Regions from separate parts of the Homo sapiens genome. Here region 1 is linked to region 2. The links come from fine-mapping of genetic effects on gene expression. Tissue or cell type: pancreas. Region 2 holds a variant in brackets; the other region holds the start of a gene. All regions are shown on one strand. Distances are between the middles of the regions.

The links. PIP is the estimated chance that this variant, and not a neighbour inherited with it, causes the effect.
Region 1: it holds the start of SH2D4A, and the variant in region 2 is fine-mapped to the expression of SH2D4A in pancreas (GTEx, PIP above 0.99).

The regions. Positions count from the first base shown.
Region 1 is chr8:19,310,818-19,316,197 of GRCh38, forward strand. It overlaps SH2D4A (SH2 domain containing 4A), which reads left to right and starts at 2,876. Exons shown (of 10, transcript NM_022071.4): 1 at 2,876-3,006. LOC105379306 (a long non-coding RNA gene) reads left to right here. Exons shown (of 4, transcript XR_949550.3): 4 at 916-1,007.
Region 2 is chr8:19,361,857-19,367,236 of GRCh38, forward strand. It overlaps SH2D4A (SH2 domain containing 4A), which reads left to right. Exons shown (of 10, transcript NM_022071.4): 7 at 2,216-2,426. Among named protein-coding and RNA genes, the nearest start is that of SH2D4A, 51 kb to the left of the region's middle. The variant G/A (reference allele first, on the strand shown) is at 2,333.

The DNA.
Region 1 (5,380 bases), 51 kb before region 2:
GCAGTGTTGCACAACTCCAGGGGGCGCCTTACACATAGTGATCTCTGTGCTTGTCCCCTGCCCACCCACAGTTGTACAAGGGCCATGCTATGCCATTTTACTTGACAGCCCTGGGCAGCAGGGCTCCTAAGCAACAGTCCAAAAGGAAGGCCAAGGAACACATCCATTAAAATGTAGGCTATTTGTTTCATGGTATTCATTACCACGAATAAATGACAAATTAAAAATATTAGTAACCAATAAATAGATGTTTAGCTTTCTCTTTAAGTTCTGGCAGTGAACGCTGCAGCAGAGCATTCCTGAACACATGTTGGTGCTACCATGTTCCATGTCTGTGACTCGTCAGTGGCCAGCCCCTGTCAGCAGTCTTCCCCACATTCGTCCCTATAACACATCCTAGATCATGGAGGGGGGAAATGTTTTCCTCTGAGAGTACTGGCCCAAAGGGAGGGAAAAAGTAACTGAAGGCCCCACAAGTAATAGGCCACCTGATTTTTTTTTAGAGCATTATAAAACATTCTTGGCCAGGCGCAGTGGCTCACGCATGTAACCCAGCACTTTGGGGGGCCAAGGTAGGCAGATCACCTGAGGTAAGGAGTTTGAGACCAGCCTGGCCAACATGGTCAAACTTAGTCTCTACTAAAAAACAAACAAACAAAAAAAAAAAACAAAAACAAAATACAAAGTTAGCCAGTTGTGGTGACAGGTGCCTATAATCCTAGCTACTTGGGAGGCTGAGGCAGGAGAATCACTTGAACTCAGGAGGCCGAGGTTGCAGTGAACCAAGATTGCATCACTGCACTCCAAGCCTGGGCAAAAAGAGTGAAACTCCATCTCAAAAAAAAAAAAAAAAAAAAAAATTCGAATTGTCTACTTTTGAAATTAAGGGAAAAACATCTACCTTTTCTCTTCCAGACCATGCCAATTAAAAGAGGAAATTCCAGGAGTCAGCAGAAAGGAAACAAAAAGAGAAGGTGATAGAGGAGAGGGGAGACCAAGTGAAGAGGATGGAGAAGAAACTATAAAAATAAGAGAAGAAGAAGAGTTCATGGCAAATATAGGAAAGAGCCACGAGACAAGAAGGATGGAAATGGGCAGATGAGAGAAAAGGGAAGAGAGTCTGGGTTCTGAGTTGTTTGCATTATTTGTGTACAGCGTGCGTTCCTTTGGGCTGTCAATATTATTTCAAGATAGAAGCACCAAGGTGTTTCCTTACCTAATCTCTGAAGTGGCAGACCATCATCACTTCTGCCGGGTTCTATTGGTCAAGCATACCAACCTTTACAAAGTGGCAGGGAGCTATGCAAGGATGTGAATACCAGGAGGATAGGATCCCTGGGAATGACTTGGAAGGTAGGTGGCATGGTGGGCAGAACCCACAGCCTAGGGTGAGATGGCAGGAATGTGGAATTCCAGTACCTTAATGTGATATGAACTGATCTGAGTGAATGTGTTTGAACACTCACCACATGCCAAGAGCTCTTCTAATCTCTTTGCATGTAGCATCTCATTTAACCCTCTTGACAACTTACCGAGGCAGACACTCTTTATCTAGAGGAGGAAAGTGAGGTACAGAGGTTAGTAGCACAGTGATAAAGCTGTTATAAGGAAGGACTTGCCAGGACCTGGAGAGAGACTGGGTGTGAGGAAGGTAGGCTGTCACAGTGTCCTGTGGGATTTTTCCTAACTGATAAACCACCCTGTATGGTTCAACTGATGCATCCATGCAGGGCTAGGATTCATTCTGACCTCGTCATAGCAGCTTTCCAGGGGCCAATCCCACTCCAGCCTAAAGCACCCCATATGCTATCATTTAAACTGCAGTAGGAACTAAGCCTTACACCAGAAATTCCTCCCTGATGGGATTCCTGGAATTGTTCCTAAATAGCTGGGTCTTATTTCCTGACAATGCCGCCTGCCCCGAGGCTTGATGTAACTCTGCACAGCTTCTGCAGTTTGGAGAGGCAGGGAAATGCCATTTTGTGTTTGAATCCAGCAGGTCAGGCTCCTAAAGAGGTCAGGTAGTCCGTGGAGAGGACTACTGGTGTTTACTGTTTATTACATCTCTCCCAATACACAAAATCTGGGGTTCACCAAAGCAGGCGGTTTTCTTCCACATGCTCCTCTAGGATGGAAAATGCCCTCCAGTGGAAATGCCTTTCCACTGTGCTTCTGCTCAATTTTCCTCCAAGATTTCCTCTAACTGTGGACTGCCAGCTCCTCCCTGACGTCTTCAGGCACCAAGCCAACCTGTTCTTGTTGCAATCCTCAAGACTCCTTTCAGCATCTTAACTTTTCCCCCAGTTTTCTTTCATTTTCTCCACCTGTCTGTGTTGACTGCGGTCTCCTTCCTTCCAGCCTTTTCCTTCCTTCATCTTGTCCTACAAAGCCACACGTGTACCGACAAGTGCCAAAGAGTTTGATCATTTACTTAATGTCAACAAAAGAAAAAAAAAAAAAGCTCCAGAGTCGCCTTGGCCTGCAGCACCCAAGCAGAGTGAACAAGTGGGGCCTGCGCACCCTCCTACCCTACACCTAGCAAGGAACCCCGAGCTCTGAAACGTGGAAAGGCCCAGATCTGCAGATTTAATCTAAGTCCTGCAGTCCCCAAGAGATCACAGACTGCAGATCCCTGTCTCATGAACTAAGAGAGGAGAGGACAAGCCTACCCCGGACTACCGCAGCTCGGGGACAGCGCGCGGGCCAGGCGGCCCGAGATGCGCAGGCCACGCAGCCTCGCCGACGAGTGGCCCTGGAGAGCCTCCAGGCGCCCGGGTGGGGCCGCGATTGCGCCCCGCCAGTCACCCCGGCATGTGGGCGCGGCGGGGCGGCGCGGGCGGGACGGCTACAAGAGCTGTTTTGCGTCCGGGCCGGAGTATTTGCTCAGCCCGCCTGCGCCGCTTGGGACGCCTCTGCCTTTCCCTCCCTCCCTTCCCCGACGGCTTCTGGCGGCCAAGTGGATGTGGCGGGTGATCGAGCCACCCTGCCCAGGGGCGCCCAGCACTGGTAGGTGCTGGGGGTGGGGCGAGGCTTTGGGGAGAGTGTGCGTGGGGTGGGAGTAGGGGGAAGGGAATTTCCTCGGAGGTTGCATGGGTGCATGGGAGGCGCAGGGGCCAGAGCGGGCGGGCGGAAGCCTCACCCCCGCCTCCACCCCTTCGCGGCGCCCGGGGCGGGCTCAGGTGCGGGGTTGGGCGGCGAGAGCGGCCGCGGCGGGTGTCCGGTGTCCGGTGTCCGGTGTCCGGTGTCTGGAGCCGCTGGCTAGGTGAGCGGCGGTCCCCGGGGCCTGGGGGCTTGCAGGGGGTGGCGGGGGAACTTCGAGGGAGAGGGTCTGCCGGGGCTGAGGACCTTCGGGGAAGTTCTGGAATCCGGCAGGGACACGCGGCGCGTGCTTCCACCCGCGGGGAGTGCAGGCCCCGGGAGGGTCCGGGCTGGCCTAGAGTTTCTAGACTCCTAGCAGGAGCACGTCCTCGACTTGCGCATGGAAATCTTCCAGGAGGGAAGTCCCGGGAAACGGTGGCAGCTGGCGCAGCACCCCCGCAGCACGTTCCCCGCGCACCGGCACCCAGGGGCGCCCCCACGTGGGGTCTGGGAGCGCGCGGAGGCCAGTGCAGCGCCGCCTCCCTCGGGCTGCAGCGGCGGGGCTGGCCCAGACCCAGACCGGGTGCCCAGTGCGCTCAGCCAAGCGGCGCCCCTGCCCGCTCCTGGACTCGGGGGTCACGCGGGCACCGGAAGGAGCTACAGTTTGTAGGTTTTCTGAGTTGTCTCTCCCTTCCCAGGGAGCTTAGAGAAGCAGCAAGCGTGGCACCTCCCCCTTTCAAACAGATGCTCCTCATCGCTCCAAAGGCTTTCGTTTGATTGCTGGTTTAATAGAAACAACGACTTGGGTACGATTATTTTAAAATAGTGAATAAATAAGTGGAAAGCATACAGGGGCATAGATTTGGCATATGAGTGGAATTCTCTATGTATACTAAATCTGTGTGTACAGTAATCTCAAATTTCTGAAGAATAGTATATATTTACAAACTGCTGTCATCTCTGGTAATTTGTTTCATCCTCAAAAACAGCCCTTTTGCTGGTAGATGAATAAGATAAAGTTTCAATAAGAAAACAAAGTTGGACCACAGAGCTGGCTGTTTTAAAAGAATTAGAATTCAAACTGTATTGTTAATGTTATAGTTACACTGTCCATACCACAATACTTTTATTTATTTTTTATTTTATTAGGTCGGTGCAAAAGTAATTGCGGTTTTTACGTAAAAAAAACCGCAGTTACTTTTTTTTTGGCCATGTAAAACACAATAACTTTTGCACCGACCTAATGTTTTTAATTTTTGAGACAGGGTCTCCTTCTGTCACCCAGGCTGTGGTGCAGTGGTGCGATCTCGGCTCACTGTAGCCTCAAACTCTCCAACTCAAGAGATCCCCCCACCTCAACCTCCCAAGTAGGTGGGACTATAGGTGCGGGCCACCACGCCTGGCTAATTTTTATACTTTATGTAGAGACGGAGTTTTGCCATGTTGCCCAAGCAGGTCTTGAACTCCTGAGCTCCAGCAATCCACCCATGTCCACCTCCCAAAGTGTTGGGATTACATGTAGAACCACTGTGCCCGCCTACTATTTTTATGATTTAGCCTGTATCTAAGGCCTTTTAAAATTGTATTTTGTTTAGGTCTCAGAGTTATTCAAAAGACAGTTGTATTGTAGAACAGTGTGAAGGTGTGAGAATCAGGCCAAATCTATGGTATCATGGAAAACAACGGATTCTCTGACCTTTTAGCAATTGGTGTTCAGAATAAATAGCAGGTGTGGGCTTGTTGCTTATCATTTCTCTCTTTTAAGAAAGGGGCTGTGTTAGCTGAGCTATTCCTTTGTTGGATCTTGAATAACCGGAGATTTGCTGCCCTTGATATAGTATGGGAAAGTCCTCTGAGTTTGAATCAGTATCAGCAATGATTACTTCCTTGTCAGGGAGTGAAAGTAGGAAAGCCCTAGTTAGTTAATTTCCTGATTTCTATTTCTTCTACCCTGGCTCCACCAGGCTCCTTCGCTTCACAGTAGATTATGTCAGATACCCACACATTAGAAGTCACAGACTGAACCAGTCCTCGTTTCACAGATGAGGAAACTGAGTCCCAAGGAGGTGAGGTGACAGCACAGAGTCACACCGCTCACTAGAGGCGGAGCTGGGAGTTGAGGCTGGAGTGCCTCTGGGTGTCTTGGGTGTACTGTGCTGAGCTTGAGTTGGGGTCTGAGAAAGCCTTGGAGCGGGGGTTAGGGGTTGGGAATTAGAGGGTGAGGGGGACAGGTGATTTACACCAGTACCATTCAGCAGTGGCAGAATGGCCACATCGTCAACGGCCTGACCACAGATAGTTG
Region 2 (5,380 bases):
AGAAGCACACAGGAATACCAGGCTGGATGTGTTAGCATCCCGCTCCTGCCTGTGACCCAGCCTTGACTCCTATTTGAGTGAGCAGAATGGGTGAGAAAACTCATAGGAGAAGAATAAGCCCATGCAACTGAAGGCAGAGGAGAGGATGCTCCAGAATGCTAGAAGAATTAGGTTTGTGAAAGAATTAGTGTTTCCATCTGACTCAGAGAAATCTGAACTGCTAGATCAACCTGAGGTGGCTTGAGGAAGACAGCAGGTATGGCTATATTTGCAGGATGTTGAGATCCTACATTGATCTGCAGTCCCATTACAACCAATGCCATTTAAATGACAACTACTGTGAAATGAAAATATTTGCAAGATCCAGTAGGCTCTTTGTACTATGCACTGAAATCCTAGCATAAGGGAATATTTTGGGTGTCTCTTTGAAGTCAAGTATAACAGGATTTGACCAATACTGCCTGAAGTGTAAATATAGTCAATAAAAATCATTTTTACATTCTGCATTTGAGTCTCATTGCTATAACAAAAAATTCTGTTTTACAAAGTAGTCATGCGCTGTATGATGTTTTGGTCAACGATGGGTCGCATATAGTTTTTAGGCCAGGCACTGTGTCTCACTCCTGTAATCCCAGCCTTTTGGGAGGCCAAGGTGGGTGGATCACTTCAGGTCATGAGTTCAAGACCAGCCTGGCCAACATGGTGAAACTCCATCTCTACTAAAAATACAAAAATTAGCTGGTTGTGGTGGCGTACACCTGTAGTCCCAGCTACTCAGGAGGCTGAGGCAGGAGAATTGCTTGAACCAGGGAGGCGGAGGTTGCAGTGAGCCGAGATCGTACCACTGCACTTCAGCCTGGGCAATGTAGCAAGACTGAGTCTCAAAAACAAAACAAAACAAAACAAAAAAAACACAGACACACACATACAGAAAACCAAAAAATAATAATAAAACCCCAAAATAATGGGTTGCATACATTTTTAAAATAAATTTTATAAATGTAGTGTAGCCTAAGTGTAAAGTGTTTACAAAGTCAACATCAGTGTGTAGTAATGTCCTAGGTCTTAACATTCACTGAGCACTCACTCACTGACTCATCCCAGAGCAACTTCCAGTCCTGCAAGCTCCATTCATGGTAAGTGCCTTATGTAGAGGCACCATTTTTTTTTGTCCTCTATACCATATTTTTACTATACCTTTGCTATGTTGGGGGTATTGATTATTTTTATTTTTTTGAGATGGAGTTTCGCTCTTGTCACCCAGGCTGGAGTGCGATGGTGTGATCTCAGTTCACTGCAACCTCCGCCTCCTGGTTTCAAGGGATTCTCCCGCCTCAGCCTCCCCAGTAGCTAGGATTACAGGCGCCTGCCACCATGCTCAGCTAATTTTTTGTATTTGTAGTAGAGTTGGGGTTTCACCATGTTGGCCAGGCTAGTCTCAAGCTCCTGACCTCAGGTGACCCACCGACCTTGGCCTCTCAAAGTGCAGGTATTACAGGTATGAGCCACTGTGCCCGGCCTTATGTTGGGGGTATTTAGACACACAAATACTCTTGTGTTACAGTTGCCTTATGATGCATTTCTCAGGATTTATTTCTCTCATTAAGTCACTAGTGACTGTAATATTAAAAGGCAGACTTGGGGTACTTTTTTGTGTACTAATGTGTCCTACAATTACCTGTGGTTAAGCATCCCTTTAATTTTTTGTCTGTCAGGTTGCTTCTCATTCTGTCCTGCTCTCTGCTCCTTCACCCTATGCACAGCCCCATGCCACTGAGTAGTCCTGATCTCTGCTAGTGAGTCAAGCACACTGCATCTGAACATAAGTCATGCAGGGCGTGACAATTGCCTCTTATTACTCAGCACCCCTGCCAGCTTGAACCCATGCTCAGGCGGGGGATCCTCACTTGGTCTTGCCAACTGCAGGAAATTCTTGCACACTTTCTCTACTTCTCTCTCATCCCTTCTTCCTCCTCTTCCTTTTCTCTCCCTCTCAGAAAACCCCCAGTCCTGTATGAAGAGAGGAATCCTGCAGCGAACGCTGGGCAAGCCCTAATGGCCTGGATCATAGGTGTTGATAATGATTGTTCCTTATTATAAGCAGACAACAAACTGCTGAGAACCTGCGCTGCTGCCCGTTGTGCAATGAATGCTGAGCCTTCTCACCTGCTCTGTGGGCTGATGAGGGTTTTCTCCGACCCCGTTGTTTTTCCAGTGCGAAAATCCAAAGCAGCTGATGAGAAGAGACGCTCCTTGGCTAAACAAGCACGAGAAGACTACAAGAGGTTATCCCTCGGGGCCCAGAAAGGAAGAGGCGGTGAGAGGCTGCAAA[G/A]CCCCTTGCGTGTTCCGCAGAAACCAGAAAGACCTCCCCTTCCACCCAAGCCTCAGTTCCTAAACTCAGGGGCATATCCTCAAAAACCTCTTAGGTAAGAAGCCACACAGATGGGTTTATGCATAAACATTGCAATGGGCTTTGAATAAGCGTTGAAATTAAAGGGGAATTGTATGAGCTGCCATGGGGTGTGGAGGGCCAACTGGCAGCCTGTGTAAGTAGCTCAGGTTCATGTCTAAGCCTTCTTCCTGGGTGATCTGGGCGGGCATTCCTCCCTTTTTTAGCTGTCAAATGTCCATAGCTGTTATACTTAGTATACCCAGTGAAATAGTAAAGCTGTGCATGGAATGAGAGAACTTCCCGTGTCCCTACCCCACTCTCCCCTTTCCCTCCCCCGCCCCCCTCCCCCCCAGAGGCAGCCGGTGAGCCAGTGAGGGGAGAAGAGGAAACAAGTGGGGTTTCACTGATGCCCAAGATCACCCTTAGTCAAAGATTATCAAAGTAGGAACCCAAAGGCTTGCTGACTTTCGTGTGATCAGTGGGAGTACATTTTCACTGCCAAGGATTAAAGGTTTGATGGTAATTCTCATTCACGGATACATAGCCAAGTTCCTCTTTTAAGAATTTGGAAAGCCTCCTTTTTTAGATGAATTGTCTATTTGGTGGTGGAGATACCATTGTCTGCTAGGCTGTGGAAGAATTAGGAAGAACCATTTGTTCTGGAAAAACTGTAGAAAAGTGCAATGATGCTATTAAACCCCCATCCCTTATGTTTGCTGATTCTAAATTTTTTTCTGGTTATTGATCTTATTTTTAACATCCTAGTATTTAGAAAGAAGTATTAAAATCAAATGTTGATTGAAAGAAACAGAATTGTCTAAAGCCTTGCATTCTGAAATAAAAACTAAAAATAATTTGAAATACTTCTCTAAGATTATGGAGAAATGAAAAATAAGACTCTTCTCCTGCTTGGAGTCGTAGTTATCTTCAAGGTTGTCTTTAAACAGGAGTGATGACCTCAGGGGAAACACAAAGGCGGATGTTTTTCTTTGCTGTAATTATTTCTACTTACTCTACTGGAAAGTTCCGTTTCGGGAAGTGGGGACCAACGTGGAACTCAGTGGAGTAAGTGGAAATAATTACAGTAAAGACCATGATCTCCAAAGTGATCGTTTGGGTAATGATTCTTCTCTTACCGACAACAAAGCAAGAAATGTAGTCAGGAAATAGGAGTCTCTTAATTGTGAGAACAGCTGACAAAGGTGCACACGGCTCTAAGTGCTGGAGCTTGTCTGTCCGCACGTTGGCGACAGAGCCTCAGCAGGGATGTTTTTGCAGCTAACTCCTGTTCACCGTCTCTTCCAAAGGTAGCATGGAAATGACTTGTAGATGTCCCTGTCCCACAGCATTTTGAAGGACAGTATATTTGATTGACAGCAATGAAGGTGGTCTTTAAAAAAGGGCAATTCCTATTTTCAGCTGTGCTCAGTTAGCTCATTTTTTCCAACTGAAGACACTGCATGAAGTGCTTTTTGTGAGTCAGACTGGGTGGTTTTAGGGCTGGGACTTGACACAGGGATGGCAGAGGTCACCTCAGAGCCACCCCAGGAAAAGACAGACCGGCTCCTACAGTGTCTGTGGAGTTTTGCTCGATCTCCAAGGACTTCCCAAAAAAGAGCCTAATTTGGAAGCTAGTAAGAGAATGTATAATATAACTTCGTATGTGTGCAGTGTCTGCCTCCCAGGGAAGTAAATATTATAGGATATTTTCTCGAAAATGCTCCGAAAATCATTAGGGATAATATATACACATACATGCATATGTACAACTATATATATATATATCTGACAGTATGTCACACGTAACTCAGAAGCACATGTTATAAAAAGCGTAAAGAACCATAAGTTGGTCAATTACAATACTAGTAGTTCATCGAAACTTGATTGTGGTGGTTGTGTTTCATAAATTGTATTTTGTTTTTAATTGACACAATAATTGTATGTATTTATGGGATACAGTGTGATGTTTTGATACATATATATATATTGTGTAGTGATCAAATCAGTATAACTCACATATGAATCACCTCAAACACTTGTCATTTCTTTGTGGTGAGAACATTCAAAATCCTATCTTTTGGCTGTTTTGAAGTATGTAGTACATTACTGTTGACTGTGGTTACCGTGCTGTGCAGTAGAGCAGCAGAACTTATTTCTGCTGTCTCACTGTAACTGCGCCAGTTGACCAACCTCTCCCTATTTACCATCCCCCCTACTCTCCCCAGCCTCTGCTAACCACTGTTCCATACTTCTATAAGATCAACCTGGCTGGGTGTGGTGGCTTATGCCTGCAATCCCAGCACTTTGAGAGGCCGAGGTGGGTGGATCATGAGGTCAGGAGTTCGAGACCAGCCCGACCAACATGGTGAAACCCCGTATTTACTAAAAATACAAAAATAAGCCTGGTGTGGCGTGCACCTGTAATTCCAGCTACACTGGAGGCTGAGGCAGGAGAATCACTTGAACCCAGGAGGCGAAGGCTGTTGTGAGCCAAGATCACACCACTGCACTCCAGCCTGGATGACAGAGTGAGACTCTGTCTCAACAACAACAAAAAAGATCAACCTTTTTGATTCCACAGAAGAGTGAGGTCATGCAGTGTTTGTCCTTCTGTGTTTGGCTTATTTCACTTAACAATGTCCTCTAGTTCATCCATTTTGTTGCAAATGACAGGACATTATTCTTTTTATGGATCTTTTGTTCTCTTTAATTTTTTTGAGGAACTTCATACCGTTGTTTATGATGGTATGCTAATTTATATTCCTACCATCAGGCAATGAGAGTTCTCCTTTCTCCAGATTCTCACCAGCAATTTTTTTTATTGCAAATGACAGGATATTATACTTTTTATGTCTGAATAATATTCTATTGTGTATATACACCACATTTTCTTGATTGATTCATTGTTGGACAACTAGGTTGATTCCATATCTTGGCTATTGTGAATAGTGCTGCAATAAACATGGGAGTGCAAGTATCTCTTTGACA